Linked DNA regions of Homo sapiens: all the other regions are linked to region 1. The links come from fine-mapping of genetic effects on gene expression. A gene starts in region 1. Each other region holds a variant in brackets. All regions are shown on one strand. Distances are between the middles of the regions.

The links.
Region 2: its variant is fine-mapped to the expression of MIR646HG in whole blood (INTERVAL, PIP 0.98).
Region 3: its variant is fine-mapped to the expression of MIR646HG in whole blood (INTERVAL, PIP above 0.99).

What each region holds. Positions count from the first base shown.
Region 1 is chr20:60,132,332-60,143,193 of GRCh38, reverse strand. MIR646HG (MIR646 host gene) reads right to left here and starts at 4,702. Exons shown (of 5, transcript NR_046099.1): 1 at 4,550-4,702.
Region 2 is chr20:60,315,017-60,325,878 of GRCh38, reverse strand. It overlaps MIR646HG (MIR646 host gene), which reads right to left. Exons shown (of 5, transcript NR_046099.1): 4 at 6,872-6,958; 5 at 3,623-5,246. Among named protein-coding and RNA genes, the nearest start is that of MIR646, 12 kb to the right of the region's middle. The variant T/C (reference allele first, on the strand shown) is at 6,650.
Region 3 is chr20:60,047,246-60,058,107 of GRCh38, reverse strand. It overlaps LINC02910 (long intergenic non-protein coding RNA 2910), which reads right to left and starts at 2,183. Exons shown (of 4, transcript NR_161293.1): 1 at 2,100-2,183. RefSeq lists enhancers at 1-160, 256-435, 446-495. The variant C/T (reference allele first, on the strand shown) is at 5,666.

The DNA of each region.
Region 1 (10,862 bases):
TTTTATGGATTTTATCTCCAGGAGCCCTTCAGGTTCTGATGGTGAAGATCCTGGAAAGAGCTGCTCCCAGCTTTGGCAGGGAAAGGAAGAGTATTCCTTATGAAAGACACCAGACCTTCTCCTTCCCCTGGAAGGTCCACTCTCCAAGGGAAAGACTTCTCAGCCTCATTCCAGCCTGGGGAAGGGCATTTTCTACTGCAGCTCCCTCCAGCCTTCCAGTCTCACCTAAGGCTGGGGGAAACACTTGTGAAGTCACAGGCCAGACACAGAGCCCCACTGAAAGACTGAGATTTAATTTGATGATTATAGGACACTCCCCTTCCCCTACAATTTACCACCTCAACAACAGGGCTTCAGTATAACAGCAGTGAATTACAGTTGAAACAGCTCCAGACAGAGGCTCTGAAGAGCAGGACTCAAGGTCAAGAGGCGAGGCTTCTGGCACCTACAGCAAATATTGAACACAGCCCAACTCTGAGCCAGATGAACATAAATCCTCACACTAAGGCCTGTTGACCTCAGTTCCTATTGCTCTGAATTATTAGCCAGATAATTTAAAATACTGTGGTTAGTATGTTAAGGGTTCCAGTGAAAAACTAGATAACATGCAACAACAGATAAGTAATATAAGCAGAGTGATGAAAATACTAGGAAAGAATCAAAAGGAAATACAAAAAATCAAATCACTGCAAAAGAAATGATGAATGCCTTTGATGGGCTCTTCAGTAGCCCAGACAGAGCCAAGGAAAGAATCAGTGAGCTTGAGCATATGGCAACAGAAACTTCCCAAACTGAAATGCAAAGAGAAAAACATATTTAACAAAAAACAATAGAATCCTTAAGAACTGTGGAACAACATCAAAAGGCTTTATGTATGTATTATCAGAATACCAGAAAAAGAGAGAACAGCACATGAGTGTTCAAAGTAATAATGGCTAATAACGTTTCAAAATGAATGATAGACCCAGAGAACTGATAAATACAAAACAAGCAACAAATAAACAAAAGCCACAATCACATACCCTTAGGTATATTATGTTCAAACTGCAGAAAACCCAAAGACTAAGAGAAAATCTTGAAACAAGATTATTGATATTTAAAAGGCAAACATTTAAAATGACAGGAACAATTTATTGAGTGATTATGGCACATGGAGAAGTGGGGTGAAGGCAACAACATCCCAAGAATTTGAAGGAGGAACTGGGAATGTTCTGTTAGGTGGCATCTGCACTGCCTGGGGGGTGCCCAGTGTTATCTGAAGGTGACTTATTGGTAAATGGGGAGAAGGGTCCCCAAGGAGGTAGAGTGGCTTGGTAAGTCAGTGGGTGCACCAAGCATGGATAGCAATGTGACTGGAGCCAGAGAGACGGGGGCTCAGCCCCAATCCCACTCACTGTGCCAGCTTCAACAGGGTTTTCACAGCTTTTACTCTCAGATACCTCATCTCAGAAATTAAAGCTATCAATAGTTCCTTTGTAAGTCTCTCTGGAATTGACATAAAGCAAGTAAAGCTGTCCACATAACACCTGGCACAGGTAAATCGCCTATATATGGGAACTGTTATTATTTCAATTGACAGCAGTGGCGCTCATATTGTGGTTTCCCCAGACCAGCAACATCACCTGCAAATGTGTTAGAAATGCAAATTGTCAGCTCTCACCCCAGATCTACTGAAGCAGGAACTCAGTGAGTGGGTCCAGAAATTTGTGTTTTAATGAGTCTTCCAGGTGTGCTGATGCTTGCTAGTGCACGAGAAGCACTGCTTTATACAATGAAGAAATTACTAGTGAGGCCAAATACTGAATGGCAACTCTGATCACCTGGCTTTCCTGACATCAAGCTCTAACATCATAAGTAGCTCAGACAACAGTGTTGTTAAACACAGCTATTATTGATCACATTCTACCTTCACTATCAGAGGCAGCTCAATGCTTGGCACATAGTAGGTCCCTAAAAAACACTCAAGTGAATCAGGACCACAGCTCTCCCCATGTAACCTCACTATTTCGATAAGGAAGGCAGAGCGTCCAGCAGCTTCCTGCTCCACCTTGCCCTGTGTGCTTTGCCATCTGATGACAGCCCCATGAAGAAGTCAGAGTTTGACTCCTAAATATAGGACTAAGGGGACTGAGATTTGATCCTACAGCCTCTGTTTTCAAATGAGATAAGGCTGAAAGGCCACATGACTCCCTTCATAAGTGATTCAGGGAGGAAAGAAAACTAGAGCTAAGATCACCAATTTTTTTGTTGTTCTTTGTTCCATGGTTGTGCTGAACCCCTATTAAGCTCAATAGGAAGGCCGAAGAGACCCAGAGCTAGCAACCAAGCCATGGGGTTTTATTAGGGGCTTACGTGCAGGGAGAGTGTTCAATGATGGTGGGCTGAACAGGGAAATCACCTTATGTACAGAAATGCTCCAGTGGTGGCGGGCCGGGCAGGAAAACTGTAACCTCTTCTGAACAGCATGTCATGTACATACCATTTTCACTTAACACCCTCCTGGTAACCTCGCCCTGGCAACCTTCATCCAATCCCAAACTCAGGGCCTCAATCCCGTGAACGGCCCACGTTCCACAGAACAGGCCAGGGGCTCAGATGTTTATCATAGACACAGAATCAATCTCCGGGTTGGCCACTCCTGGATTCCCTAGCACAGAACACACATTTAGGCGCATCTGCCATACAGGGTCATTCTAAGGGTATGCTTATTACTATCAGGTGCATTTACCCTACATTCCCCCCTCATGAACATTAAAATGTTGAGGTTTCTTGATGGAAATTTTTTGTCCATTCGTAATTTTGGTTTAATCATTGTTAGTTTTTGATCAAGCTCTGTGGGGCCTCTGTGGCATGTACAGTGCTGTGCTGGACAAGGCAGGGGACTAACAGAGTAACACACGTCCCCATCCCCTGCAGAGCCGGAGCCCTGCCCAGGAGAGAGAGAGGGTGTAGACAGCCTCATGACGATGCAGAATGGGGAACAACTGTGTCATAGCAAAGGACCACGCATGATGTTAGGGGTGTTTAAAGGGCAGAAAAGAAGTCTGTTCCAAGAGTCAGGGACCAGGGAGGCTTCACACAGGAGCTGGACACCAGAGCAGCTTCTGCTAGGGCCTCCTGGGAGACATAGTGATCTGGCCTCTCCAGGAGAATGCAATGTCCCACCTGACAACCATGCAAAGAAATGAATGGTGAAACAGACAGCAGGTCCCCTTTGCCTATTACACTAGCATTAAAATGTAGTGGACATACCTAGTGCTGGCAACAGTGTGATGAAATTGGCATTCTCATCTATTTCTGGAAGCATCTGGCAAACTGCCTACTGGGAAGATAAGCTTTTGGAAATCATCAGTCAACACGCGTGAAGCGCTATTGTCGATGTTTGTGTCATCGGCCCAGCAATCAGACATGTGGAAATCTGTCCTAACGGATGTTGTTGTTAGCAAAAGAAAAACAATATTCTCCACTGGGTTCATTTCCCAACAGCTGGAAGCAATACAGGCATCAGAGAATGGCCACCTGAATGAATACTAACTGCTCAGTGTTGAGTAGCCCTTAAAATAATTTTTCTGAAGAAATTCAGCCACCTGCAAACAAAAATCTTAAGGTATGTTAAATTAAAAATCATGTCTCAGAATTTTACTGAGGACAATTGCAAATACTCAACAAGTAATAAACCTTGGGCAAAGATACTGGAAGGAATTACAAAATAATAGTGCTATCATTAAGATGGTGTGGTTGGTTGTGGTTTTTATTACATATTTTCCCTGCTTTTCAAATGCGCTAAGATGTTCTTACAGATAACAGTTGGAGAATGCAAAATATTAGAGAGAGAGAAATGAGAATGAAAGGTCACCTCCTTATCGTTGAAGTGGTAATAAAAGTAGTCACAGGACCTTCTCATTGCCAGCAGCACTAGCCCTCATGTGAACTTTATTTTCATTCTTTTCTGTTGCTGAAAATTGGTATCCAAGGGCAGTTAAGTCTCAGGGGCATGGCTTGACCTCAGGCTGACCTCAGCCCAGCACCAGGCTGGATTTCTGAAGCTAAGCAACAGGTTCTGAGGTAGGTCAGAGAGGGTGGTCACAGCCTCACTTAAAGGAGAGCAAACTTGCTAAATAGATGGCGAGAACAAGCCACCTGCGGTGCACAAGCCGCATCCCAGGCTCGTGGTTAGACCATCCTTTAGCGAGGAGGTCAAAGAGCGAAGGAAAAATCCGCGAATTCATCCAAGTGCAGAAACCCAAGATGAGTGTCCTTGGGCTGACCTGCGCTCATTAGAATACTAAAGAACTGGGTGGAGATTTACGATGCTAACGAGACATGCGATGTGTGTACTAGCATGCACAACCACAGCACATGTGCCACCAGGAGACAGCCCAGAACATGCTTCACGGCAACACCCCTTCCCAGCCCTTCATGAATAATCATGTAAGACCCCCATAAAGGGGGTTTCCCCAGTGTCGGCCAGCACTGCCTCGCCTTTGAGCGGCCGCTCCGATCCGCTGGCAGAGTGCGCTTTCGCTGTGCGATCAACTCCCTTGCTTACCTTTACTTTGGACGTGCTCTCAAGTTCTTTTGTGTGGCGAAGTCAAGACCCTGAACCGGTCCACCAGCAACAGTTCTTTCGGAGTCCCTCAACCACAGGCCCTGAAAGCCGCTGAGTTAAGTCTTTAAACTGCGGGAGAGCCTGGGAGCATCTGAAACGCAAAAGGACTCCCAGTGGATAGGGAGGCAGCACCCTGACCGGAACCGGAAGAGGTTTGCCGGTGAGCCTGAGTCTCCACACACAGTGATCCGGGCACCCGGGCTGCCGTGTGGCAGGTGAAACCGCGTGTGGTGTGGATGTTTCTCCAGCTGTGTTCTGTCGAGCCCCTAAAAGTCTGGCCTGCATTGGAAGGGCCTCCCCAGTGTCCTCGTTTCTGTTCAAACAGAAAAGTTCTTATTTTCTGTATTTGTGGTTTTTGCTTCCTCATATAATTTCGGTTGCACAAAGCTAAAAAATATTTGAAAACCTCTACTTAATCGTATAACTAAATGCAACATTATCTTTTGCTTATTTAATAACTATTTTAATATTTATTTTCTATTTATATTAATAGTGATAATAAAAATATAGCTTGGAGTGAGAGAAAAGCTTTCCTCTCTGTTAACTATCACTGTATCATTTAACTACCACTAGCTATTCCTCACAACGGTTTCTAAAGTGTAAGCACCTGCCACCTCATTAGCCTCTAAGCTCCACAGTGCCAGGGACTCTTTGCCTTAGTCTCTGCTATGTGCTCAGAATACCCAGCACATACTAGGTTTGAACAAAATGCATTTTGGAGAGTGGATGCTGCTGCCACCTGGTGACAGCATACCCACATTTCATGCTTAGCACTTTGATTACTTAATGAAATTCATGAGGAATGGAATCAGAAAACCTAAGACATGCATCTGTGTGATAGCAATCTCACTTTCCTCACTTAGCTTTTTCTGTTTCCCTACTCTGCACAGATTGGAGACATCTGAGTTTTCTCTGCCCCCATCACCTGCACCTGCCCTGGTGGCATGCACTTGCACCTCCTCTGTCTGGTATTAGGTTGGTGCAAAAGTAATTTCTGTTTTTGCCATTACAACTGCATAAACTGCGATTACTTTTGCACCAACCTAATAATAGGGCTTGCCCCTCCAGAGGATAGAATCTTTGCTTGTCACCTTAGAACTTCTCACACAGAGCACTGCATTCATCAAACCCTGGTCTCAGCCATCCTCGGGGCACATGGAAGGTCATGCCCATAAATCAATGCCTCAGCCAACATCTGGTCTCCCCTTCTGCCATTCCCTGTGTCCCTGCCCTGGCACCAGGCATTTGCAGGTGCAGGGGGCAACATCATTTAGTTAGCTTCATCTGGGCAGGGAGGAGCATTATTAAACATGAGAGATAGCTGTTGGCTCATGGAAAAGATTAGTTTTAAGCTATTTAAGGCAAAGCAATAAAGGATGTGGTTTCCTCCTCTGACATGCTTCCTAATTTGTAGATTCATATGACATCACACTGGATTACAAAGCCACATTACTCTGATTGGTAATATTATGCTATCCTAATTCAGTTTGTATAATTATTTAATTTTTTAGGACTGCTCTCAAATATTAACATTGTGTTCGGTAGAGGCCAGAAAAAATTGGGAACATGCATCCACACACGTGGAGAAGCTTAATTGCTAGAATAATGCAGGGCAATTATTGTAATGAGAACAAAGCCTCATGTCTGGCATACACATGTGACTGTGTCCAGCCCAACTTCCACTGAAGTGACAGTCACTGGACTCGAAGCTCCTCAAGGACAGGGGCTGTGTCGCCTTCACAGACATGACTCATTGCCGGTGCTCAATCAGGGTTGAGCTGACTTGACTTGAAGCCAAATAAGGACAAAGAAAGGTCAGGCAGTCCTGAAAAAGCCAAGGGTCTGAGAGACAACACTCGCTGTTGTCCTCGCTGTTTAATTCTCTGAGGTCCATTAGGAAGTAGGTAGGAGCCATGTCATCATGGCCACTTGGGCCAATCGTCTGCACAGATGGGGAAGGCATCTGCCCCCACAGTGAACACTAGGCTTATCTGCCTCCTAAATCTCTCTCCAGGCTAACTTCCATGGTTATTCAAATCCCTCTATTAAATATTCAGACCTCCAGCCCCTGGACCTCTATGGTCCTCCTGACAAAGCTAGAGCTGTGATTTCTCTGCACCTCCATTCTTCATCTGCAAAATGGGGCCATAGAGTCTACTCCACTGGGTTGAGAAGCTACTGGAAACCAGGCTGCCAAGTGCCTGATGCAGTATCTGTCTTCAGCTGGCCTCCACACAAAGACAGTTTCCTCTTTTAAATTATATCTAGACTTTTAATCATTTTTTTACATTTTTATGGGTACACAGTAGGTGTATATATTTATGGGGAACATGAGATGTTTTGATACAGGCATGCAATGCACCATAATCACACTATGGAAAATGGAGTATCCATCTCCTCAAGCATTTGTCCTTTGTGTTACAAACAATCCAATTATATTCTTAGCTATTTTTAAATGTACAATTAAATTATCGTTGACTCTACTCACCCTATTGTACTATCAAACACTAGGTCTTATTCATCCCCATGTCCGTCCTCCTCACCCCCGCAACACTTCCCAGCCTCTAGTATCCATCCTTCTACCCTCTATCTCCATGAGTTCAATTGTTTGGATTTTTGGATCCCACAAATAAGTGAGAACATGTGATGTTTGTCTTTCTGTGCCTGGTTTATTTCACTTAAGATGATGACCTCCAATTCCATCCCTGTTGTTGCAAATGACAGGTTCTTATTCTTTTTTATGGCTGAATAGTACTCCATTGTGTAAAGTACCACATTTTGTCCTCTTATTGCTTTTCGTCACTGCTGAGAGCCAGTCCTATCTGCTGCTTTTCCAGGGTTTCCTAGGAAGATGCCCACTCTATGTGTTAGACCAGAAGTTTAAGTTAACGTGGTCTATGGACAATCACAGCCCATGCACCCATGGCAGGGCCTCAGGTACCTGCATGTCACCAACTCCTTACCCCAGAGGAGATGCCCACTCTGGCTGGGAAAGTTTAACCACTTCGACGCACACATCTGCCCAACAAATATAGACAGAATGCCTACCATGTACAAGTGTTAACCAAACACCTGAGAAAGAAGCATTAGGTTAACAGAGACTCTATTTGCACAAGCAGTTTGCAAACTGGGGAGATGCAGCCTTCAGTACAAAACAAAGGTGGGCCCGGAGAGAACCAAGAGAGTGGTTGTCTTTGATAGAGAAAGCTCTTACCCAGCCTCCCACTCTGGGCCACTTATGCAATTGTGGGATGTAAACTGCTCAGTTCTGATTGGCCGATGCTGTCACAGTCTATTGCTCAGGTCCAGGAGGAAAATAAGGTTTTCCCACAGCTACTGATTCAGGTGGCATGAACAGGAAAAAACAGCCTTGAATGTCCCTAAGTTACATGGCAAGGGTGTGTGCTTTCCTGGAACACAGAGTATGTGTGTGACCTCTAGTCAGCAAATGGCTGCTTGGCTCTATTTGGAAACTAGGCCCAGTTAGATGCTTAAGAGCTGTTTCGGAGAATGGGCTCTTTCAGGTTCACACAAGACAAAACAACTAGCAAAAGGGAGAAAATGTTCCTGCAAAGTCTACTTTCTAGATTCTCTAGGAAGGTGGTTTAGTCAGGGTTCTCCAGGGAAACGGAACCAATAGGAGATATTATATATATCTTATATATATGTGTGTGTATATATATATTATATATGTGTATATATATTATATATGTGTATATTATATGTGTATATATATATTATATATGTATATATATTATATATGTGTGTATATATATATCATATATGTGTGTGTGTGTATATATATATATATACACACACACACACACACACACACACACACACATATGGGTGTGGGGAGATTTACTATAAGAAACTGACTTGTGGCCGGGCACGGTGGCTCATGCCTGTAATCCTAGCACTTTGGGAGGCCAAAGTGGGCAGATTGCCTGAGCTCAGGAGTTTGAGACCAGCTTGAGCAACACGGTGAAACCCCATCTCTACTAAAATACGAAAAATTAGTCAGGCATGGTGGCATATGCCTGTAGGCCCAGCTATTCGGGAGGCTGAGGCAGCAGAATCACTTGAACCCAGGAAGCGGAGGTTGCAGTGAGCAGAGATCACACCACTGCACTCCACTCTGGGTGACAGAGCAAGACTCTGTCTCCAAAAAAAAAAACAAAAAGAAAAAAGAAAAAAGAAATTGACTCAGGTGGTGATGGAGGTTGAGAAGTCCCACAGTCTGCCATTAGCAAGCTGGAGACCCAGGAAAGCCCATGGTATAATTGGAGTTCAAAGCTCTGAGACACAGGGGAGCTGAGGTGTAAATCCTATTGTGATAGCAGGAGAAGATGAGATGAGATGTCCCACCTCAAGCAGGGAGTCAAGAAAAAAGGCGAATTCCTTCTTTCTCTATCTTTTGTTCTATTCAGGCCCTCAACAAATTGGGTAATGCCCATCCCTGTGGGGCAGGTCAATCTACTGTGCTGAGTCCAGCAACTCAAATGCTAATCTCTTTGGGAAGGCTTCTCACAGACCCACCCAGAAGCAATGTTTAACCTGGGCACCCAGAGGCGCAGTCAAGGTGACACCTAAGATCAACCACCACAGAGGGTGAAACCATCAACCACTCTAGGAGTTTGGTGTAAGGGTGAACCCCTAACCAAGCCAGGGGTCTTGTGTAGTAAAAGGAGGAGGCCAGACTCTGACCCCAAAGTGTCTCATTTAAAGATCTGAGATGGGCTCCAGAACATTCTATGTGCTCACAAGAACCTCTGCTATTTCTGACTCTGTTGGTCCAAGAAACAGCACAAGACTGTGAGCTCTTTATGAGCTGAAACCAGGCCCCAGCTCTGTCCCTGAAGGGACAAAGCACAGTGTGTGGAAGTAGCAGTGTTCAGCGTCTCATTTGTGAGATGAAGCGAAGCCATCGTGAAGGAGTCTGGAAGGACAGAACAACTTTGCTAAGGGGAGTGAGAGTGAGGTCAGGAGTAGGGGAGAAACAGGAAATGGGAGTTCCTTTGAGAGTTGTGAGAACTAAATTCATGCTGGGAAGAGGTGGAGAGAATTCAGAGAAGTGGCTTGCTCTGGTGTGAAGGATCCTTCCGAGGAGGTCAGGATTATAATGATCTCATTACTAAATTGGAACTTGCCCGCCAATAGACCCTACTCATCTCAGACGGAGAAGGAGCTCCACAGCAAGCAACTGTGATTGCACATTAAATATTTAACAGATCGCCTCTTGAGCAATCATTTGTGGTCATAATCTGGCTCAGTCTACCACCACATCACAAAAATGCTCACGTGAAAAGAAACGTGGGTCCAGGAGGTGGTTTCTCAGTTCAATGCACAGATCACTGGTAGCCAAACTCCACACAAAGGTGGATCTCCCCTCGCCATAGCGTCTTCTGCAGTCTTGAGTCTCCAGCCTGAACTACTCCATGAGACCAGGCCCAGAGGACACCCAAAGCCTGGGGAGCCCAGCAACAGAGGTGTTCCACCTTTACCTCTAAAGGGACCTTGCTGCCCATGCCTACCTCCCCATGTGGGGGTGCTGGCTTCTCACTGCTGTCAATATCGGCATTGTCCTGGCCCCTACCTCTGCCAACAGGCACACTGACTTCGGCTCTTCCTGCCTTCCTCACACTTTCCATTCTGCCCACCTGATCCAGGTACAGGTGCTTCCTACCTGGAGGAGGGGAGGAACCTCACTGGCTCGCTGTGCTTGTCACATGCCTTGCTGACGGTTTGCCCTCAGCCACCCAGGAGGTTCCATTTAGGAATCTTAGAGCCTCCAGTGACGCTGCACTCAGGGTCTCACTTTCCATCACAGGAAGTTCATCTTTAGGTTTTGTATTGCCTTTGGCTATTTTTTTGTAAAGTTCTATTTGAAGAGAGAACTCTGAGGCCAGTGCTTGAAATCTACTAAGATAAAATGCCAACTCCCTAGCCTGGCATTCAGAGCCTCTCGATGACTCACCCCTGCACACACCTCTGCACGAATCTGCATCTCAGGTCCACCTGGTCACCCACTGTCACCAACACAGCTTTGGTTTCATCCTACTATGCTTCACTCACATTACCTAATTCCCTCAGCCCAACTGACCCTTTTAAAAAATGTAGCAAACCAGGTCACCTCTCCTGTTAAATCTCTCCAGTGTCTGCCCTCACCCACAACGTGGCCAACGTTCCCATCACCAGTAACAGCGTGTTGACAGCAGGAGCCCAGATATGATCACGGGCCTGCCACCTCTGT
Region 2 (10,862 bases), 180 kb before region 1:
TTTTAATGTATCACAGAGTGGTTTGTACCATTAGTTTTAGAGATCTGCCAGACGGTTTTAAAATAATGCAAGAGCTGTGGAGTTAAAGCTTAAAGTGGTGTAACTTGGTACAAGATGATAAACAGTCACTTCAGTCACTTTTCCACTTTGCTGATATACCACGCTAGGTCCTCAGCGCATAGTCAAATCACATGCAAAAGCAGACGGTCCTTTGGGGGAAACACATGGGGGAAAAATGAAACATTTGTCATCCCGCTAGCTTTATTATCTTAATAAATCATAACATCTTAGTGCAGTGGCTCCCTATGTTTGGGCTGTCCCAGTTGGGACAGCAAGATTTGAAGTTGGACATAATCACAGCACTGAACATCACTGAATCCCACAGGGTGAAAGTTATTGCATTTTCAACTATCATTTAATCCTTTCTACATGAAGGACAAAGCCTCATTTTGCTGCTAACTCATCTTTGATGCCTCTTGGACTCTTGCTAATATGTGTTTAGAGCAAAAAAAGAGGCCTCTGACTCAGAGTCTTCAGGCCCCAGATTCTGCCCAGAGTTTTGCAATGTTTTCTTGGTCACCTTGCTTTCCTCTTACAGCATCTGCTATTGAAGGCAAGCGCTACCAAGTTTCCATTCAGCTGTGGTTTATGGTTGGAGGCTGGGACCAGATGCCGGTGATTTGGTGACTGGCGCGTTAGCATTGGAGAAGCATCAGTCTAAAGTAGGAGTTGCAAACTTTCTCTAAAGAGCCGGAGAGTAAATATTCAGCCTTTGAAAGTTGTGCAGGTTGTGCAGGTTGTGCCGGTTCTGTCCTGACCACTAAACTCTGCTGCTGTAGAGCAGCCGTGGACGATACGGAAATGAATGAGCATGGTTGTCCTATAAAACTGTACTTAGGATCACGCCTGTAATCCCAGCACTTTGGGAGGCTGAGGCAGTGGATCACCTGAGGTCAGGAGTTCGAGACCAGTCTGGCCAACATGGTGAAACCCCATCTCTACTAAAAATACAAAAACATCAGTTGGGCATGGTGGCATGTGCCTGTAATCCCAGCTACTTGGGAGGCTCAGGCAGGGGAATTGCTTGAACCAGGGAGGTTGAGGTTGCAGTGAGCTGAGATCACACCATTGCACTCCAGCCCGGGCAACAAGAGCGAGACTTCATCTCAAAACAAAACAAAACAAAACAAACAAACAAACAAAAGACAAGTAATGGGCAGCTTCGTTCTGTGGAATGTAGTTTGCCGACCCCTGGTCTAAGGTATCTTTGCAAATTGAGTTAAGCAAATCTGCCAATAAACCTTTTCACTTAACAATGTGAGGTTTTTTTTTTTTTTTTAATGTTGAGCAGATATGAGCAGATAGTAGCTCTGGAGTCCTCAGGTATCCAGCATGTGTTGGGAAATGTGGATTTCCCTGGGTCAATGCTCCCACCATGGCCACTTGAAGGCTACCAGTATGATTTTCCTGAAAACAGATTTAAGAAGAGATGTCACCATCAGCTTCCTCAAACCATGCGATCAATCCTGAAAATGAGTGTCCTGTGTTGACTTTGTCCTGCCAAATAGCATGCCCACCCAGAACCTCAGAATGTGGGTTTATTTAGAAATAGAATCTTTGCAGATGTAATTTAGTTAAGATGAAGTCATCCTGGATTAAGGTGGTCTCTGATCCAATGACTGGCATCCTTTTACAAAGAATAAAATTTGGACACAGAGCATCTCAGAAGGAAGATGACGTAAAGGAAGGTAGGTGAGAAGGTCAAGTGAGGACGGAAGCAGAGTACGGAGTGATGCATCCATAAGCCAAGGAACCCCAAGGATTGCTGCAGCCACCAGAAGCCAGAAGAGAGGCCAAGAAGTATCCTTTCCTGGAGCTTTTGGGGAGCTTGGTCCTGTTGATACCTTGATTTAAGATATATGACCCCCAGGGCCAGGTGTGGTGGCTTACGCCTGTAATCCCAGCACTTAGGGAGGCCAAGGGGGGGCAGATCACCTGAGGTCGGGAGTTTGAGACCAGCCTGACCAAAATGGAGAAACCTGTCTCTGCTAAAAATACAAAATTAGCTGGGCGTGGTGGCACATGCCTGTAATCCCAGCTACTCGGGAGGCTGAGGCAAGAGAATTGCTTGAACCCAGGAGGCAGAGGTTGCGGTGAGCCGAGATCATGCCGTTGCACTCCAGCCTGGACAACAAGAGCGAATCTCCATCTCAAACAAATAAAAAAAAGTTTTCTGACCCCCAGAACTATAAGAGAATGAATTCCTCTGGTTTTAAGCCACCTAGTTAGTGGCAATGTGTTATGGCAGCTCCGGGTAGCTAGTGCAGTGGGACACAGTGGTATGTGGATATGCAGGCATTTGGGAATCACAGTGTAGGTCACGTAGCCAGTAAGTGTCAGAATGGGAATCTGAGCCCAGATCTACACCCTCCGCAAGCCCAAGTCCTTAAGTGTTTGACTGTGTATCTTCTTAGAGAGGAGTGTTGAAGGAGAGGACTTGCGTCGTGCACTGAAAGTCAACAATATTCCAAGGTGGAGGCCGGCAAATTCTCTCTCAGTCTGGGACATTAAGGACACCTTGAGTTGCTTGGTCAAGTCTACATGGCACAGATGGGACCATCACTGTGGTGCCAATGAGCCCCACCTCCAAGTTCAGGGCACCTCACAACTTCCCACATCAAGTTCCCATCCAGAACTTCCCAGAGAACAAGAAGCCACCATGTTTCCACCTACAAGAGTTAGCTGCTGGGCAAAGTAGACCTCAAAGATGAGCAGAGGGCTGCCACTGAGACCGTCCTGGCACTGCTGGAACTGCTCCCAGGGGTTGTGAACCCCACAACCTCCTTTCCATGGAGTTCATTTTAAAAATTATATGTTAACCTTCATTAAAAAAAAAAAATCAGAGACAGTGCTTCTTTCTTAGTTTCTTTCTTCCTTCCTGTTTTGTTCCAGAAGACTTGGCTCTGGAGGTTGTTACTTAGTTTGGAAGGCAAGAGGAAGGTTAATTAGCTTTTGTGACCCAAGAGCTCGCAGGGAAGATGTCAAGCAATTCCCTAATTGCTCCTCAAAGTTCGATACGGTTGGAGGGGCAAGGTCCGGGAGAGAAGATGCTAAGCTGGTTGTTAGGTTGACTATGAATTCCACCCAGCATGGTGCGGGGGACATTTGCAGGGCATTGTTCTCTGTGAGGAGTCCAGATAAATAATTCATTCCTCTCTTGGGTCCCATCAGCTGGTGGCCTCCAGCCCAGCAAGCCATTGTGGATTTCAGGGCCAACCCGGGGCATTTCTTGGGGCTGAGACTCCCACTCAGTCATAGAGAGAATCCAGCCCCTACATCTGCATGGGTTGCATTCTGCTTCCTGAGCTCCTGAAAAACATAAACAGTGCATTTCTCTGCTTGGCAAAGGATACCAAGGCAGAGACTCAAGATATGTCAGCCATGGTCTTCCAAGTCCTCAAACCTCCAGACTGTGGTCTGCAAATGTGCCTCACCTGGGAGCTCCTTAGACAGAATGCAGAATCTCTGGCCCACCCCAGACAGGCTGAATCAGTATCTTTGGCATGGGGTCCAGCACTATGCATGTTCACAGGCTCTCCAGGTATTTTTTTTTTTTTTTTTTGAGATAGAGTTTCACTCTTGTTGCCCAGGCTGGAGCACAATGGCACGATCTCAGTTCACTGCAACCTCTGCCTCCTAGATTCAAGTGACTGTCCTGCCTCAGCCTCCCAAGTAGCTGGGATTACAGGCACTCACCACCACACCTGGCTAAATTTTGTACTTTTTAATAGACATAGGGTTTCTCTACTAAAAGAGCCAGGCTGGTCTTGAACTTCTGACCTCAGGTGATCCACGCGCCTCAGCCTCCCAAAGTGCTGTGATTACAGGCGTGAGCCACTGTGCCTAGCCTTATCCAGATAATTCTGATGCACACTAAGGTTTGACCAGTGCCCCTTAGGACCACAGCCCTTCTTGACTGTTAAAAACCTAGCAGAGAATAAATCCATTCTCTGCCCTCTCCCCCAGACTCTCAGTCAACCAAGACACCAGCTGGGGGATTCCGATGAGAAGCAAAGCCTGCATTAGATTCTCTTGCAGAAACTGATACTCACTGGTGATTTTCTTCAGCAGTTCCTGAAATCACTGAACAGGTGGATTTTTTCTTCCTGACTTGGCAGTATATCTTCCTCGATTCACTTACTGTTTAGAACATTTTGCTTGTTATGATTGCAAAGTCATTGTGGCAGGCAAAAATGCATTGCATGTCATTTTTCCTCATCTGCACATGGCTCTCAGGACATAAAGAGGATGTTAAAAAAAAAAAAAAAAAAAAAAGCAGGACACAAAGAATGGCCCTGCCACCATCTCCCTCAGTGGAGTCCTCTCTCTGGCCCCGGGAAGCCTCGCCAGGGGTGTTTCCCTTCACTGGGGCTATAAAATTTGCATCCTATTCATAATTACATGAAATCCCCCAAATGCACACTGGGGACAGCTGCTCCAGGGTCACATTGCCAAGGATGGCACAGAGCTAGCAACTACACCAAAAAGTCAAGCCATGGTCAGCTTGGGTGGAAAGCACCATGGGGTGAACATATTCTCCATGTGATGAGAAGTCACCTCTCCAGTCATATTCTAAGGCAAGAGTGGGAGCTGCCCATCACAGCCCAGATGTTGACCACTAGGGAGAGAAAGGGGCTTGATTCAGATGCGGTTCGTTTGGGGACACAGTGACAAGGCAGGAGCTCCTGGGGTCGCAGGGGTCGGGGAGAGGGGATAGGGTGTCTTTAGCTGATTGAAATCTCTTCTCATTTGACTGCAGGTGAAGTAGGATCAGAGGTGGATTCACTGTGAGGCCCTCATTTCCATGGGGGCTCCTTCCAAGACTAGGAGGGGCCCCAGTCATGTGTCCCTGTGGCCATAGCTTTGCAAAACTTGCTGATGGGGAGAGATTTTCACTGCAGTTGACTTCAGGCCACCATCTCTTTCTGCTCCAACTTCCCATCCCTAGGGTTTCCCTCACCTCAGGAGCTGTTAGAGGGGCTGCGGCTCTTCTGGAATGCACTTATTTAGGCTTGAGTGGCAGATTTGTACGAAGCCACTTTCACATCGAGTGCCATTGTGCTAGGTGTCCTGGGTCAGTGATGTCTCCAGGAACAACCCTGCTGCCCATGGAAATAGTGCTCCCAGTGTCCTGCCAGGATCCCGGGGCCAGATGAGCTTCTCATTGGTGCCCAGCACCAGAGGGTCTGGTGGAAGAGGAAAAGGAGCAAGGTTTGAAATGTATGGAGCCAGAAGCCAGTCTAAGAAAAATCTTCTTATCATCAGACACGCTATTATCAGGAGAGGATTCAGTTCTCATTATTACCTAGTCAAAATAAATGTTCTCCCTTGTAAGGAATAATTTGTAATGCATATACACAAATGTAAATGAATCTTTTTTTTTTATGGGATGAAAAAGAATCTAAGGACGGGTGCAGTGGCTCATGCCTGTAATCCCAGCACTTTGGGAGGCCGAGGTGGGTGGATCACTTGAGGCCAGGATTTTGAGACCAGCCTGGCCAACGTGGTGAAATCCTGCCACTACTAAAAATGCAAAAATTAGCTGGGTGTTGTGTGTACACCTGTAATCCCAGCTACTCAGCTACTTGGGTGGCTGAGGCACAAGAATCACTTGAACCCTGGAGGTAGAGGTTGCAGTGAGCTGATATTGCTCCACTGCACTCCAGGCTGGGTGACAGAGCAAGACTGTCTCAAAAAAAGAAAGAAAAAGAATACATCAAAATTCTTGTGTCTATAGGACAAAACCTTACCCAATGCCACATGAGTCTGTCTGTGTGACCATCTGCACGTTGCATGCCACCAACTATCCATAACTTTAAAAAAAAGCTTTATCTGACCACACTAGAGGAATTATCTTTCTGTCCTGTTAAAAGCAATACCAAACATTTTTGTCATATGAAAAGGCAAAATGTATGCAAGAGAAAAATGTAGGAAAACGTACAATACAATCAGGTAACTATTAAAATATTCAATACTGTATAGTTTTGTGACGTACAGAAATTTAGCAGCTTTTAAGAATTTAAATAAACCCCATTCCTAATTTTATATGTGTCATTTTGTATGTTGTTTTCTTTAATTTTGAGCCCCACACAGCCTGGATCTGAAAGGGCTCATTCATCCATGCGTTTGTTCAGCAGATGCTTACGGAGCCACCACTGCAGGCACAGGCAGCAACGCAGCCAGAAAGAAAGCTGGTGCTGGTGTCAAGGGGTGAACAGCCAGGTGGGGGACATGATAGTCAGCATGTAAACAATCACATTCACGGGAAGCTGCAGAGCTGCAAGGTGGAGGGAGCAACAGAACCGCAAGGAGGAAGGGGAAAGGGTACTTGCAATGGGCTGGTCAGGAGGACCTCTGAGGAGCTGATGCTTAAGCAGAGACAAGGGTAATGGGAAGGGAACAAGCAGGCCAGGAGCTGAGGAAACAGTGTGCAGGGGCCACGACACATGCAAACGTCCTGAGACTGTGCTGGGGCGGCTGGCGGGAGGTTATCATGTTCCAAAAAGAAGAGCAAGGCCAATGGGGTCAGACAGATGACAGTGAGGGCTGGGTGGTGGGTGGAGATGGACCGAAGGGCCCCGTGAGGAGA[T/C]AGCATGAACTGGCGCTCTGTCCCCATGGCTGTGATGAAAGACAACATGTGAACATTACACCAAGCAGGAAGAGTGATTAAAGGCGATACAGAGACTCCCATGTTCTCCGCCAGCAAACTTCCTGCTTCTTCCTTGGTCTGGTCTAATTACACACAGACTCCCGTCTTGACCAGTCACCCCAGAACTCATGTGTAAAGCTAATATGCAGAAATGAGGCTTACAAAAGGACAGGGAGAGACTTCCAATTAAACATCTTCTGCAGCAAATGGGAAATGGGGCCCTTTAATGTCGACTCCAGCTGGTGCATTCTAAAAGAAAACCAGGCAGAAATACATGATGGTTGGGACACTTTCTCCAAATATCAAAGCTGAATACACTCTTTTTCAACTTCAGCACAGCGATCCTTCTCTAAACAGCACCAGCCAATGGAAGTCACAGCTCTTCTTACTCCAGAGAGTTATATAGAATCAATCCCTTTGTATATATTTTTAAGCCGAGAAATTTGCATTCTCCTTGTTTTTCTTTGGAAATGGTGACTCAAGTCTTTTGCTGGTCTTGTCCTCAAAGAACAGGAGGAGTGACTATTCTCACCGGACAGATAGCTTATTCTGAGGGGAGGGCTGGGGGGATTCACCACGCCTCTGGTGTCTCAGCTGCTTGAAAATCAAAGCGGAACTCTCACAGTGGCCTATCCCTGAGCAGGTCAGGGAGCCTGATGAGCATCATTTCAAAGCCACGCCATGAGCGAGATGGAGTCCGAGCAGGCCTGGACCAGAAGCAAAGAGCAGCCGTTCACACGAGAACGCATTGCCTTCCTTCATCAGGCGGAGGTGACCACTGAAGGAAACAGCTGCAGGCTGGGTCTACAGTGGGTGTCACATAAGGAATCCCCAAGCCAGCCCGGCTGGAATTAGCTGCCACCTGTGCCTGCCCACGGGGCACTCTGTGTACATCCACTACAGCTCACGGTGCTGGAGCTCCTAGTCCCCATGGCTGTCTGTGCTACAGATCTTGAACTCTTAAAAGGCAGGGGGCATGTGTGGTTTGACTTTGCTTGATAAAAAGTCACCCCCCACCACCACACACACAGTACCTGGCATGCAGTGGGAACTCAGGAGCTATTGAATGAATGCAGTGAGCTGACACCCTGGCTGCAGGACACGGAAATGCATACACAGGGCCATGAAGCCCCACTAAGCCCATGGCGCTGAAACTCCTGGAACACCTGCTGACCACAGTTCCTCAATGGCTTTCTCCAAGAGCACATCAGAATGGAAGCACCAGGCCTCTCCATCTCTGGGTGCATACAATAACTGCATCAATACACATGGTCCAATGGTCAGCCCAATTGCTCATCTTATCCAGGAAAATCTCCATAAGAAATCCAGCATTCTGGGGGAGAAGCCTACTGGCTAGAGGACACAGAGACACACGTGCTGTGGGGCTGGAACCTGCAGGATAGCTGGGCTGGGAGGCAGCCTGAGCTGTTGGCTGGAAGTGGAACCAGCTACCTTGGAAGGAAGTGAGGTGTCTATCCACAAGCACCCACACAAAGCCAGAGGGCCCTGTTGTACTGGGAGGGAAGCTGGATGGCATTACAGTTCGCCCCTCTCAGCTTGGGTATGAATCTATCATTGTTTGTTTGTCCTGAGAAAGCACACTGCCATATGTTAACTTGGCTACTGCAGTTAGAATGGATCAGGAAAAAAACCTTACTATTCCTATTCATCAAATCATTGCCTGGCTTATTGGTTGTACAGACTTCACGGATAGGGAACCTGAAGATCATATCCAAGGATCAGAACATTTTCTGCAGAGGAGATGTAGAGTCCAGGGATGAACCTCCAGGCTCACCTCATGCCTGCTGAGAGGCACCTGTTTTTCACTCCTTGACTTTATGCTGAGTCCTGCCATATGCCAGATGCTGCTTTGCAGTGCAGCAAGGATGGGCCCACAGAGCCTCTTCTAGCATGGAGATTAATTCTGGTAAAGGAGGACAGCAAAGAGCCAGTGACAGCATGCCCCCAAAATGAGCACAGCTGTGATAGGGCATGAAAGAGGACAGAGGACAGAGCTAGAGAACTGCACAGAAGGCCAACTTAGGGGTGGGGTGGGTGGTGCAACAAAGGCCTCTCTGGAGAGGTAGCATCCAAGTTGAGACCTAAAGAAGAGAAGGAGAGCAAGATGAGCCAGGCAGAGACCTTCCTGAAACAGGAAAGTATGTACAAGGGCCCTGTGGTTGACAGGGAGGGAAACCACAGCCTGCTGCGGGGCCGGATGGGTGAGCAGTGCTGCAGTGGCACAGGGGAGGGGAACCATCAGTGTGGGGTCCTCATGACCAACGCCCCAGAGGCGGAACACAGAGACACCATTCAGCAAGAACCAGCTTTGATAGGAGACTTGGGGAACACAAGGATAAGGCATTTGAGGTTCTTTTAAAGCTTTCTGCAAAAATCACATCCTCAGAGGTCTGGACGTGGGGATTTGGAGCAGGCCTGAGTCTGTCTGGCTGCTGAATATTTCATGCAGCCTCCTCGGCTGGCTGGCCCCTCGGTGCTGGGCATGGTCTTCCCCTTCATGCATGATTTACAGGGCTCTGCATTAATGCCCCAGCCCCATTTATCCTGGCCTGCTGACCATTAGCATGAGCAAATAAATATACATTTCCAAGAGCCCAGATACCCAGCCTGAGCCCAGTCTAGCTGACAGCTTTCCACTTTCTCCTAATCACAGGAGTTAGGGGACTGGAGGGCGGGGGACCACCTGTTGTGTGAGAAGATTCCAGAACCGCCTGTGGATTGGATTTTTTTCCTCCCTCTTCCAGAATTTTTACCTTAGAAATTCATCATTCTCTCTTTCCCTTTTGGGTGATAGACAGTTCTTTCATGTACTGCTGAGAAGATAATTCAGAATTCTGTTTATTCTAATGCAGTTCAAAATGTCTGTGACTAGCATCTGAAAATAGCTCTGTGTGTTAAATACTGGCAGCCAGAATGCTTTTGGAGCCTGTTTCTCACCGTCCCCGGGTCCTCCAGCTTGTCCATCAGTCTGTCTGTGTCTGTCTGTGTGAAAAGCAGCTCCTTTGTCTCAGGCTTTGTGGGACTGGGCTCTGTGGGGCAGTTTGGGGGAGGGGAAGGTCATGGTTGGATATCATTTATGGTGCATGTTCTGCGTGTTAAGCTTTGTGCTGGGCCCTGGGAAGGACTCTGTCCTTTTGCAGCTTTCAGTCGGTTGGGGAGACAGGCACTGAATGGGGAAATAGACAGTAAAGAGACATTCACTAACCAACACCACGGTGACGGGGCTTACATCCTACGTGGTCCTCGGATTCACTTCATTTGGGGAAGCTATTGCAGAGGCTGGGGCTGGAACCAATATGGCTCACAGGGAAAGGAGCAGCTGGAAACAAGGGAAGTGGGAAGCAGAGAGGTGGAGAGGGAGTGGGGAGGGGTCCAAGGTCAAAAAGCCAAAGGGCCAGGCTGAGGCATCATCGGTAGAGGTGTGAGTACCTGGGGCAGGTGTCAGGAGGGGAAGGAGTCAGGGGTAATCACATCAGGGACACAGGAGCTGGCTCTGGTGGATGTCGCCAGATTATGAAGGGGAAATCTGGGAACACAGCACTCATAAGAACAATGACCAAATCCAGCTCCTCAGTACGTCTGGGGCATGTGGGCAAGGTGGGCAGGGAAGGCCTCGTGTGCTGTGGCCCTCCCCACTCTCCAGCCTTATTTCTTGCCTTTTTCCCCTTACTCTGCATATTCCTAGCCACAAGGACCTCCTCCCAGTTCCTTGAATTCTACACTCCCTCCTGCCACAGGCCCTTCGCTCAGGCCACCCTCTTTTCCAAGAACACTGGTTCTTTCTCTCCACTCTCAAAGCAACCATCACCCCTCCAGGAAGCCTTCTCTGCCCTCTCCTTCCCCAAGACTATCCCAAATTCTACTATTAGCTACTCTTATAGCCCCAGGTACCACACCTCCTTGGGGCTTATTCCTGTTGAAATTTTACACACATTGATATATTTTTTAAAAATTATCTGTTGTTCCTATTAGATTTATGCTCCTTAAAGACAGGAATGAAACACATCTAGTTTTGTTCAACACAGAATCTATGTAACTGGCCTGAAATCAATATATTCTTTTTTTCATTTTTGGAGATGGTTTCTCTCTCTGTCACTTAAGCTGTAGTGCAGTGGCACAATTATAACTCACG
Region 3 (10,862 bases), 85 kb after region 1:
TTTGTCGTGTTTAACTCCCTACCATTTATTTTTCTCCTCTCTCCCTGGAAGGCGAGCTCCCTGGTCATCGTGGGCCTTCCGTGTGTTTCTCATGCTGCGTCCTCAGAGCCTAGAGGCATGGAGTAGCTGCTCACTGAATCCTCACAGAATGAATGAATGATTGACCACACCCATCACATTAGGCCTTATGGGATTATTATCAAGAACGCCCTATTTAATGATGGGGACATGCTGCCCCACTTCCATCCCTGGGCCTTGGTGCACAGGCCAGAAAGTCCGAGACAGACCATCTGTCCTCCCTACAGGGGACCAACTTGCACAAACAAATGGGCATCAGCACCCACTGGGAGCAGCCGTGACCCCTGGGTCCTCGGTACCAGCCACAAAGCCAGTTCTGAGTTTGTTCAGAATCCTGCTTAGAATGAAGGATGCTCCTACACCAGAGATCTCTTAATACGACCACCAAACACCACGGGATTTTCAAAGGTAGCTGCCACAGCCGCCGCACACAAGCTCTGTTCCTGGCTTGCTTCTGCCATCTGCTGGCCAGTTGATAAAAGGCACCGGGGGTTATTTTCCAGTCTCTCTGAGGCTCTTGTTTTGTGGGAGGAACTCATCACCACCTTTATCTTCACAAGGGCTGCTTGGCAGACCTGTCCCATAAGTAGTGCAACTTGGGAAGATCCTAGGCCTCTTGTGGGTAGGGCAGTCATCCAGTCCTGCATCTTATGACTTCACACGTTACAAACGTTAACTTGCTAAACACTCAATGTGAAACCTAGGAGTAAGGGACAATTATCTTTACTATCTACAAACAAGGATGTTCAGGCACAGAGAGGCTCAGTACATTGTGCAAAGTCACACAGCTACAGAGTTGTGAAGCCGAGATTGGAACTCAAGCAATAAGGCACTTTGATGGCAGGCACCTTAATGGGGGGTGGGGGAACACCCTTTACCAACAACCATGCAAATGGCCCAGGTGCTCCTGTGACCCCTGATCCCAGGGGCTCCACCAGAGCACCAGAGAGAGAGGGATGTGGGAAGAGCAGAGGACAGAAGAGGACACGTGCATCTAACCACTCGGAGGACAGGAGAAGGCACCCTAACCTTCTGAGCTGCCATCTTCCAATCAGGAGGAGGGGAGCACTGGATACATAATCTCAAGGCTTTCCCTACAGTTCTCTCAACAGGACAGACAGGCAGGGGTGCACAGTGGTTAGAGCACAGGCTTTTTGGTCAGACAGAACTGGGTTAAAGATCAGACACGTCCACTCACTCTCAATGAGTCCATATCTGTAAGCCTAAGCTTCCGTCCTCACACATGTTGATAAAAGAAAAAGAAAAAAAAAGGCCAAGTGCAAAGCTTTTAGCATTGTTTCTGGTTCAGGGTATGGACTTAATACTGTTTTCTATCATTATAACCACACTAAAGGCTCTGAGAAGTCCTGCAGGAAGGAAAACTACTTGTCTTTATCTCAGCCATCCCCAAGCTAGCTGCCCACAGAGCCACCATGGAGCCCACAGCTCTGTCACCCCACAGGGCCCATGTGCCTGGCCCATTCATGTTCCCTCACACGGGAGCCTCAGGCCCCAGTGGAAACAGACTCAGGAGACAAACCCAGGCCTCCTGCTCCCAGCTCCCCACTCTGTCCTTCTGCTTCTACATCCAACTACCCCCAAAGCAGTTTCTACAATCCATAAACAAAAGAATTCAGAGACAATTCTCCAGGGCTCCCAAGACGACATATTTCATCTGTGGCTTCTACAGTGCTTATTTGTCAGTTTTACAGACCAGAGGCAATTAAGAGTCTAAGGCCGAGAAGGCTGTTTTTAATAATTCTGTCATTATTCTCAATTTTCAGCACCACCACACATGAAAAACCCATTTCCAATTCCCTTAAAGGTGTTAAATGGTTTTTGCACTGTGTTGCAAAAGTTTGCCGTCCGCCAAACTGCTACAAAGTGGGCTTGTAGCGTCCGGTCCTGAGCTGTGGGAACGACTTGGTCGGGGCTGATCCGCTGGAGCCCAGCTCTTTCCCCAAGCGTTCAATTCCCAGCACATGCCGCGTGGGTCACTGTGGATTTCAGGGTGGACTCACCGCGCTGCTGGGTGTTGCAGTCCACGCGATTTCACAAGACTCCATGCAGGACACCTCCACCCGGCCCAGGCTCAGGCAGGATATGAACAGGAAACCACTGTTTCCTGCCGATCAACACCCAGGAACTGATGAAGTAACCCAGTGCCCAGCCCCTCTGACAGCCACAGAGCCAAGAAGAGGGAAGTGAGGTGGCATCCAAGGCAGCCCCTGAAAGAACTAAGCAAGGCAAGTTCAAGGGGTTCAGGGCTCTGCAGCAGCTGATGGGGAGCAGGGAGGAGCATTCCGTTTTCAGGGCATTGAAAGTCCTTGAAAGGAGAAAATTTTATAAGGAATGACAAGGCCTGGATGCAGAAGGTGGGAGACCCCTGCCCTTGATAACCGTCATAGTTACCAATGACAACTATGATAAAGAGATGACTTTCTGTGGCTCCCACTTGCTGCCCTCTGTGGTTCCAGGCACATCACAGAGAACTCTTCATTTTCATGAGGCCCCATAAGGACATCCCTATTACTATGATCCTTATCAATATCCTGATGTTACAAATGAGGGAACCAGGACACAGAGACGCTGAGGAACTTGTCTGAAGTTACATGGTGGAGACATAGCCTGGGACGCAGCAGTGAGAGGGACAGACGAGCCCTGCCCCTGTGCACCAAGCCATCTGCTGGGGACGCAGAAATCAAACAGCTCGTGGCTGCCCTTGTGCCCAGCGCTGTGGGCATGAGCGAGCTGCTTTGAAGAGACAGCGTGGTGACCTGCCCTGCTGGCCCAGGCAGCATCACACGGCAAGAAGGCGGGCTTTGAAGGGTTTTAAACAGAGTCGTGTTCCCACGTCTGCAGTGAGAGGGCTGCAAGCCTTTGTGTTTTTCACACGGTGTTACACAGCGTTGGGGTCCACGGACCTGCCTCGGAAGCTGCTCATGGGCAAATGGACGACCACGGGTGGGGAAGGAAATTTCCCCCAAACACACACATGCTTCACCCAGAGCAGCCAAGCTGTTTGTGTGTTTGTGTGTATTCACGTGTGTATGTGTGTGTGTGTGTCTTATGCCTAATGGTTCATTGAGTTTAAGGATCTCTCAGCTCCCTTGCAGCACAAATGTTTCATAATTTGGTGGTTAGCGCGCAGTGACCAGGCAATACAGGTTCATCAAAATGCACCAATGAGACAGAGACAGGAGAGGATGTTTTGGCAGCAGACAGACATCCAGGAGGCCTAGCACACCCCCATCCCCCGGCCCCAACCTCAGAGAGATAATCAGGGGAGCAAAGGGCATTAGTATGAAACGACCAAAGAGACTTAGCGAGCAACGTCAGACTCCCTGCAACACGCGTGCTGATGGGACAGAGGGGGAGTTATTTTTATACTTCAGAAATAACCAAGCATTCTGCATGCCCAAAGCCAGTTTGGGTTTTAAATACCTTTCATAATTTTTCTGACTATGGAGGTAATACATCCTCAGGGCATAAAATTTAGAAATTATAGAAGAGTATTTTTAAAAATCCAACCATTGAGCAATAACCATTATAAAAATCTTACTGTTTTCCTTTCTTGTCATTTATCTAGGCTCATACAGATATTTGGGGCTTTTTTCACAAAACTAGGAAAATGTTAAAATATATATTCTAATATTGTCTCGATTTTATTATTAGATTTATCATAACCATAAAAGATTTGAACACTTTTAACGACAGCGTATTATTCCATTTCCATGGAATTACTGTAATGAATCTCCTACTGTTGGGTTTCAGTTGCTTCCAAATTTGAATGTAAATAATTTGGGGGCAGTTCTCACTCCATCAATGGCAGACTAGGTTGAATACAGCCGAGGTTTTGCAGGCACACACTATGCCCAAATTAAAGCCACAGCCCAGGATGTTGGCCATGGAGAGATGATGCTTTCAACTGTATCAACTCTTGAAGCTGGTGAACCATGGCTTCTCCCCTTCAGGCGCTGGCAGACCTTCTCCTCACACTCTTGGCTCTTTGCTGGGCTGACAACTCCCTACTTGCCCTGCAGGCCTTCCCTGAGCTCTGGGGTCTTCTTTCTGCCCCCTTCCATAGCTCCCCGTGGCTGCCACATCTCAGCACTGACATCCTACGTGGCTCTTTGTCCACACCTAGCTCCCTAGACCATGCACCCCTTGTGAGCTAGGTCTTTGTCTTCCACATGGAAGTTCTCACTAAACACTTGAATAAAGGAATGAATAAACAAATGAATGAACAAACAATCTAACAAAGAAGGAGCACATGGGCTGACCTTGCAGGGCTCTCACGCCAAATCCTGGAGGCGCCTTCTGCAGCCGTTTCTGTCTCCCAGCCAGTCCACCTGTTGCTCGGGCTGCTACTCAGAAGTGGCGCGTACAGGAAGCACGTGCTTGTTTGTGCTGGCCCCATGTTTGTTTGCATTTAGGATCACGGAGTTTACTCAATTAATAAATAGAGTGGAGAGGGGGTACTGCCTCTGTTTGGCAGACAAAACAAACAGAGGAGAGGGGAAGATGTCCAGGGCAGATTTCTCCCGCTTTCAATCTTAAATAAATAACCAGTTTCCCGATGCTAATTTTTCCTCTTTATGATCTTGTCTATCTGTGCACAGACGATGAGGTCTGATCCCTTGTGGTCCCAAATGCCACGTGGCAGTGAGCTTCCAGGCCACGTCCCTATTGCGCCAGAAGAGCCCATGTGTGTCTTTGTGAGCATGTTCATAGTTAACCTTGTTGATCATTACATGAACGTGTTTAATCCTTACCACAAGCCTGGGAGATAGGAACTCTTACTGTCCAAATTGCACAGATGGGCAAGCCGAGACACAGAGAGGTAATGTAACTTGCTCAAGACCACACAGCCAGCAATGGCAGAGCCTGGATTTTAATCCTGACAATCTAACTTCAAAACCTATACCTGTGATCACCAGCTAGTCCTCAATAGCCAATGTGCTGATTTCTAAAGAAATTCCAGCACATTCCCGCCATATATAAGCAGCCTGTTATTCCCAGGGAATATAAATGCCTTGGGTTTAATTTAATGAAAGCTGTTATTGGAAAAGATACACCAAGATAATTAATTTCTTAAACAATGGAAATGAGGCTGCGGTTGTGTACAATTTTGTTTTTAACTGGAGGTCTCCCACCTCTGGAAGAGGGTATGCTAGAAAGCTGAGAATCCCAGGAAGAGAACTGGTAGGTGAGTCTGGAGGCTGCATGAGCCTCAGGGTCATGGAAGGTGTGCCAGTGTGTGGGTGCCAGACCCAGAAGAGGGTGCCAAGATCACCTGGAGCAGAGCATCCAGGGAGCTGGGCAAAGCTCTCAGAGATCTTTCCCTGCTTTGAAATGAGACAACCAATCCAGGGTATAAGTCCATGCTGGAGCCATGGCAAAGAAGAACTAGGACCCAGCCTGCCAGCCCCTTTTTGAGGCTGGGACTTCTTGTTACCTCTACAGGATAGTATGATAGAAGGCCCCCTGGCACAGGGCCAACTGGCATATAGTGGGTAACTTCTGCATGTTCGGAGGTTAGTCTTAGCCTTCTTACCCTTTATGATAGCACCCTGATCCCCCCGCC[C/T]CAACTTCCTATTGTGTGAATCCTGCTGGGTGGGACTCTCCAAACAAGGATCTCACCCTGCCCAGAGGGGAGGCACGTAACCTGAGCAGATCCACTGGACCCTCTTGCTCAAGGTCCCCACCTTTGAGGAGAAGACCCCCAAAAGAGTAGAAAAGGTGCCTATGTCTTCTGGCCACAGCCCTGAGGCCTCCCGGACACCAGAGTGCCTAGGCTCTGGTTCTTTCTAGGTCCATTTCTCCAGCTTCTGCCCTACATTTGTGCATTCCCCCAAGCCCTTCCAGCAAACTCCCTCTCTGCTTCCCTGTTATTCTGGCTGTTGCCGACACTCAGGGCCCCTGGCAAAGCAGCTGCCCCACAGCTGGTTGTGGAGAGAACAAGCAGCATCTGAGAGTGGGAATGTGTGTCCTCTGCAGCACCCCGTGCCCTGGTCAAGAACTCTGCTTTTGTTTTACTGCCAGGAGAGCTTGGGACCATCTCTGCACCCCACTGAGCCTCTGTGTCCCCCATAAAATGAAAACCATAACAGTTCCACAGGGCAGGAATGTGGATAGAACAAGGTAATGAAGGTGAAGTGCCAAGCTCAGAACTTGGCACATGGCATCTAGTACAGAACAATGATGGTCTATCTCCAGAGCCTGGGCTGGAATCCCCCTTCTTGAACATCCTCTCTCTGCAACCTCTTTTTGGCTCTGTTTCTTCAACTCTGAAATGGACGTAACAGAGCCCAACTTGAGGAGTGAGAAGTATGGGAAGTCAAATACATGAACACCCCTGATGCCTGAGACACAGACCTTGGTGATTTTTTGAGGTATACCAGTAGAGACATGATGAGAAGTGCTTTATTTTTTCTAACTGCCCTTCTATTTCTCTGGTTACATAAAAAGTCTCAGGTCAGCACTCACCTCTATTAAAGACCCCATCATAATAAAGAGGGTGCAGGGCTCAGCTGGGTCCTCACAGGCAATACTACCAACCAGCATTTAGTTGTATGTTTTATGTCATATTTTGTATGGTTTCTTTCCATTCTTAGAAAGCCTTACTAGTTTTCTACTTGGAAGAGAGTTGGAAATCTTACTTTTTTATTTTTTAATTTATTTAATTTTTAATTTTTGGGGGTACATAGTAGGTATATATATTTATAGGGTTCATGAAATGTTTTGATCCAGGTGTGCAATGCATAGTAATTACATCATGGAGAATGGGGATATTCATCCCCTAAGCATTTATCCTTTGTGTTGCAAACAATCCAATTATACTTGATTAGTTATTTTTAAATGTACAATTAAGTTATTATTAACTATAGTCACCCTGTTGTGCTATCAAATAGTAGGTCTTATTCATTCTTTCTAATTTTTTGTACCCCACTTTAAAAATACATTTAAATAAAAAATTGAGTTGATTTAAAGAAAAAACTGAAGTAAATAACAGTATCAGCGTTAGAAGAACACGGCCAAGACCTTGAAGGTGGCACATGCTAGACGGTAGGGAGGCTGGAGATAGTGGATGTAACGCAACAGGAACATGGCAGGTGTGCTGTCAATCCAAGCTGTCATCATTATCATCATTAGCCCCAGTTAGCAGGACTGGTGTGAGCAAAGGGGCCAGCCTGCACTCACCTCCTTCCGAAAGCCGCTACCCTTTGGAAGCATAATCGGCTCTGAGGGCAATAGGGATAATTACACAGGGGATCCATGCCACTGTGCCTGGTGATTAATCACCAGCTCTCCCTGACGCTTCCAAGCAACCCCGGCTGATGGGCATAATCAAACCCTGCAACATGGGTCCTCCCACCAGCCACAAAACGTGCCGCTTGTGGCTCAGACAGATGTTCCTTGGGTTTCAGACCATGGGAAAATAAATGGGCTAATTCATCGCCGCTCCTCTGAAAAACACAGTCCAACCCTGCAATATCCACCAACTCCCTGCTGGCAGAAGTCACCCACTGCACTAGTGAACCCAAGAGACAAATGGCATCCTTTGCCTATGACTGCTTAGTGGACTCCTGGGGTGCCAGACCCAGACATGGCCATCAGGCGGAGTTCATTCTCAACCCCACCTCCAGGTGGCACTTTTCACCTGAGACGCTCAGCCCCAGCCAGGTAAGCCCTGCTGTCCTTAGCTATGTGAGCCACAGGTAGGAACTAGAGACAATGTTCATAATACACCTGGGCAGGGGGTAAACACAGGCGGGCTCTTGTGATGGTTTGCTTGCATAAAAATGAAAATGAACCAGGCAGAAGCCTGCAATATGAAGTGTGGCTCTGACTGGAGCTGAACAATATTTGACCCCCTCATCCAAAATGTCAACATCACCGCATCTTTCTCCTAATAGAGCTGTGTGCCTATGAGCCTTGAAAGATCTGCATTATAATCTGTAAATGTCTAGGAGTCAGTATGACAATTATCTGAGGACTCCACGGATATGATGAATGGACAGAAAGACAAGGACAAAATTGGGATCCAGGCTAGGAACTAGGAGAGACAAGGACCCTAGGGGAGAGAGGAGCAAGAGGGTGAAGGAAGGGAGTGGGAGGGCAGAGAAAGGAAGGAAGAAAAACAAGAAAGAAGGAAAAGAGATGAATCATATATTAGTCAGGACCTCTTGATGGGAAGTCACAACAACCTAAAATAAACTGGATTAAAAAGAAGTAGAAGAATATTGACTCATGGAACTAAGATATCCAGCAAATGAAAAGACTTCAGGCAAAACCGGATGCAGGTGTCGAAACAATAGTATCGGCACCCATTGTCCCTCCATCTCTCCACGCTGCTGTCCTCTGCACCTCAGGAAGGCAGGTATGGAGCAAGGCACATGCTAGACGGTAGGGAGGCTGGAGATAGTGGTTGTAAGGCAACAGGAACATGGCAGGTGTGCTGTCAATCCAAGCTGTCATCATTATTATCATTAGCCCCAGTTAGCAGGCCTGATGTGAGCAAACCGGCCGCCTGCGCTCAACTTCGGATTTTCACCACCTTACAGACCAGAGAAAACCCTGCATTTATATCGAGTCCCCCTCCCCGAAAGACTCTCATTGGCTTTCCCAGGTCATGTGCCCACTGCTGGACCAATCACTGAAACCAGGAACAAAGGAGTATTCTGATTGGTCAGTTTGGAACATGTGATTAACAGTCTCAATAGCAACATGGACAGAAGAGAAGTTCCCAGCATGAGGGGTGTTAGGCAGATAGAAAAGGCAGAAAGGGAAGAGAAGGAAAATGAAATTTCCTGGACACCTGCTCTCTGTCAAGCACAATTGAAATAGTTGTTTTTTTCCAATTTAATCCTCATCATAACCCTGCCAGATACGCATTTGTATCCCCATTTTACTAGTGAGAAAATTGAAGCAATGTCAAACTTAGCCGCCTCCAGCTGTGCAGACATATCAGACACTGGGATATGACAGTTGGGGATGGATTCATGCAGCCCCACCTCCACCACACTACCCAGGACTGATGTGTTCATGAGCCCACCTGGGCTGCTGGCCCATGAAACTTCAGCTCCTACCTTGGCTGATCAGTCAGGCAGCAGCCCTGGCTCCAGTGCAGCTCCTGGAATCGTCAAAGACCTTTGTTACTTTGTTACTAAGCAATCATTGGCGCACTTACTCACCCATCATGTAAAAATACTTTCGGAGTCCCTACCATATACCAGCTGCTGTAATAGGGATCAGGAACACACAAATGAATAAGATACAACCCAGCCCTCAAGGAAAGACAGGCAATCAGGAAAATCAAAAACAAACATTTGTAAAATATTCTGAAGAGGCAAATGCAGGAAGATCTTGATTATGAGGAACACTCCAAAAATGTATCTACTTTGGGGCTCAAACTTTCTAGATAGCTAAGGCCTTAGGTTTTTTGGGTTTTTTGTTTGTTTTCTTTTTGTTGTTGTTGTTGTCATTGTTGTAGTTTTTTTAGATGGAGTCCCGCTGTGTCGCCCAGCCTGGAGTGCAGTGGCATGATCTCGTCTCACTGCAACCTCTGCCTCCCTGGTTCAGGCGATTCTCCTGTCTCAGCCTCCCAAGTAGCTGGGACTACAGGCACTCACCACCATAGCCAGCTAAGTTTTGTATTTTTACTAGAGACGGGGTTTCACCGTACTGGTCAGGCTGGTCTCGAACTCCTGACCTCAGATGATCTACCTGCCTCGGCCTCCCAAAGTGCTGGGATTACAGGCGTGAGCCACCGCGTCTTAGGTCTTTAAGAATAAAACTGGCTACAGTGAGCTATAATTGCACCACTGCATTCCAGCCTGGATGACAGAGCAAGACCTTGTATCTAAAATAAAAATAAACACAAAATAGTGAGGGCCCTTCTAGGGTAGAGATATTTCTTAACTGTAGCACATACTTTTCCTGACTACCTGAGTGGCATTTGCTGCACCCAGTGGAACCTTCCTTGATGACTTAGGGTCTTCATGGTCAACATGAGTGATGTAATGAATTGAGTGGCCTCACAGTGGACCTGGCTGCCCAGGGGCAAGTACTGGAAGCACTGGGGGAGAGACTGCATCCCCATGTGGGTGAGATCTTGTAGGTAGATGGAAAAGAATGCGGGATTCTGCAGAGATTCTCAACAGGGGATGATTCTGTCCCCCAGCGGATATTTGGCAAAGTCTGGAGACACTTGTGGTTATCAAAACTAGGAAAGGAGAGGTTGCTGCTGGAGTCCAGTGGGTAGAGGCCGGAGATGCTGCTGAACATCTTACAATGCACATGATGGCCCCCCACAATGAAGAATTATCCAGCCACAAATGTCAATGGTACTGAGCATGAAAAATTTCAGGCTAGATGGAAATTAGTTTGTTGACAGTTTGAAGAAATAATCCAAGTAGATGATTTAGCTTAGTGTATGGCAAATAAGGAGCTGTTAAAATGTATTGAAATATTCGCTGCTATTATCTTCATCACCACCGTCATAACCGTCACCATCATCATTATTATTATCATAATTTTTTTTCTTATAAAGCCACTTCCAACCTCCTGTATTACACTCGGGCAATGGTAACAAGGATTGCTGGGTTAGACCTGCATCGTCAGAGCACACACATTGTTGTTCCGTCACTGACTCCTAAGATGACTTTCAATACATTACCCTGATCCTCCTAAGGACTCAAGATACTCACCTATAAAATGGGCAAACTGCTGTCCTCTTCATATGATGAAGACAGAGCTCAGTGCGTGTTAAGTTTCCTGCT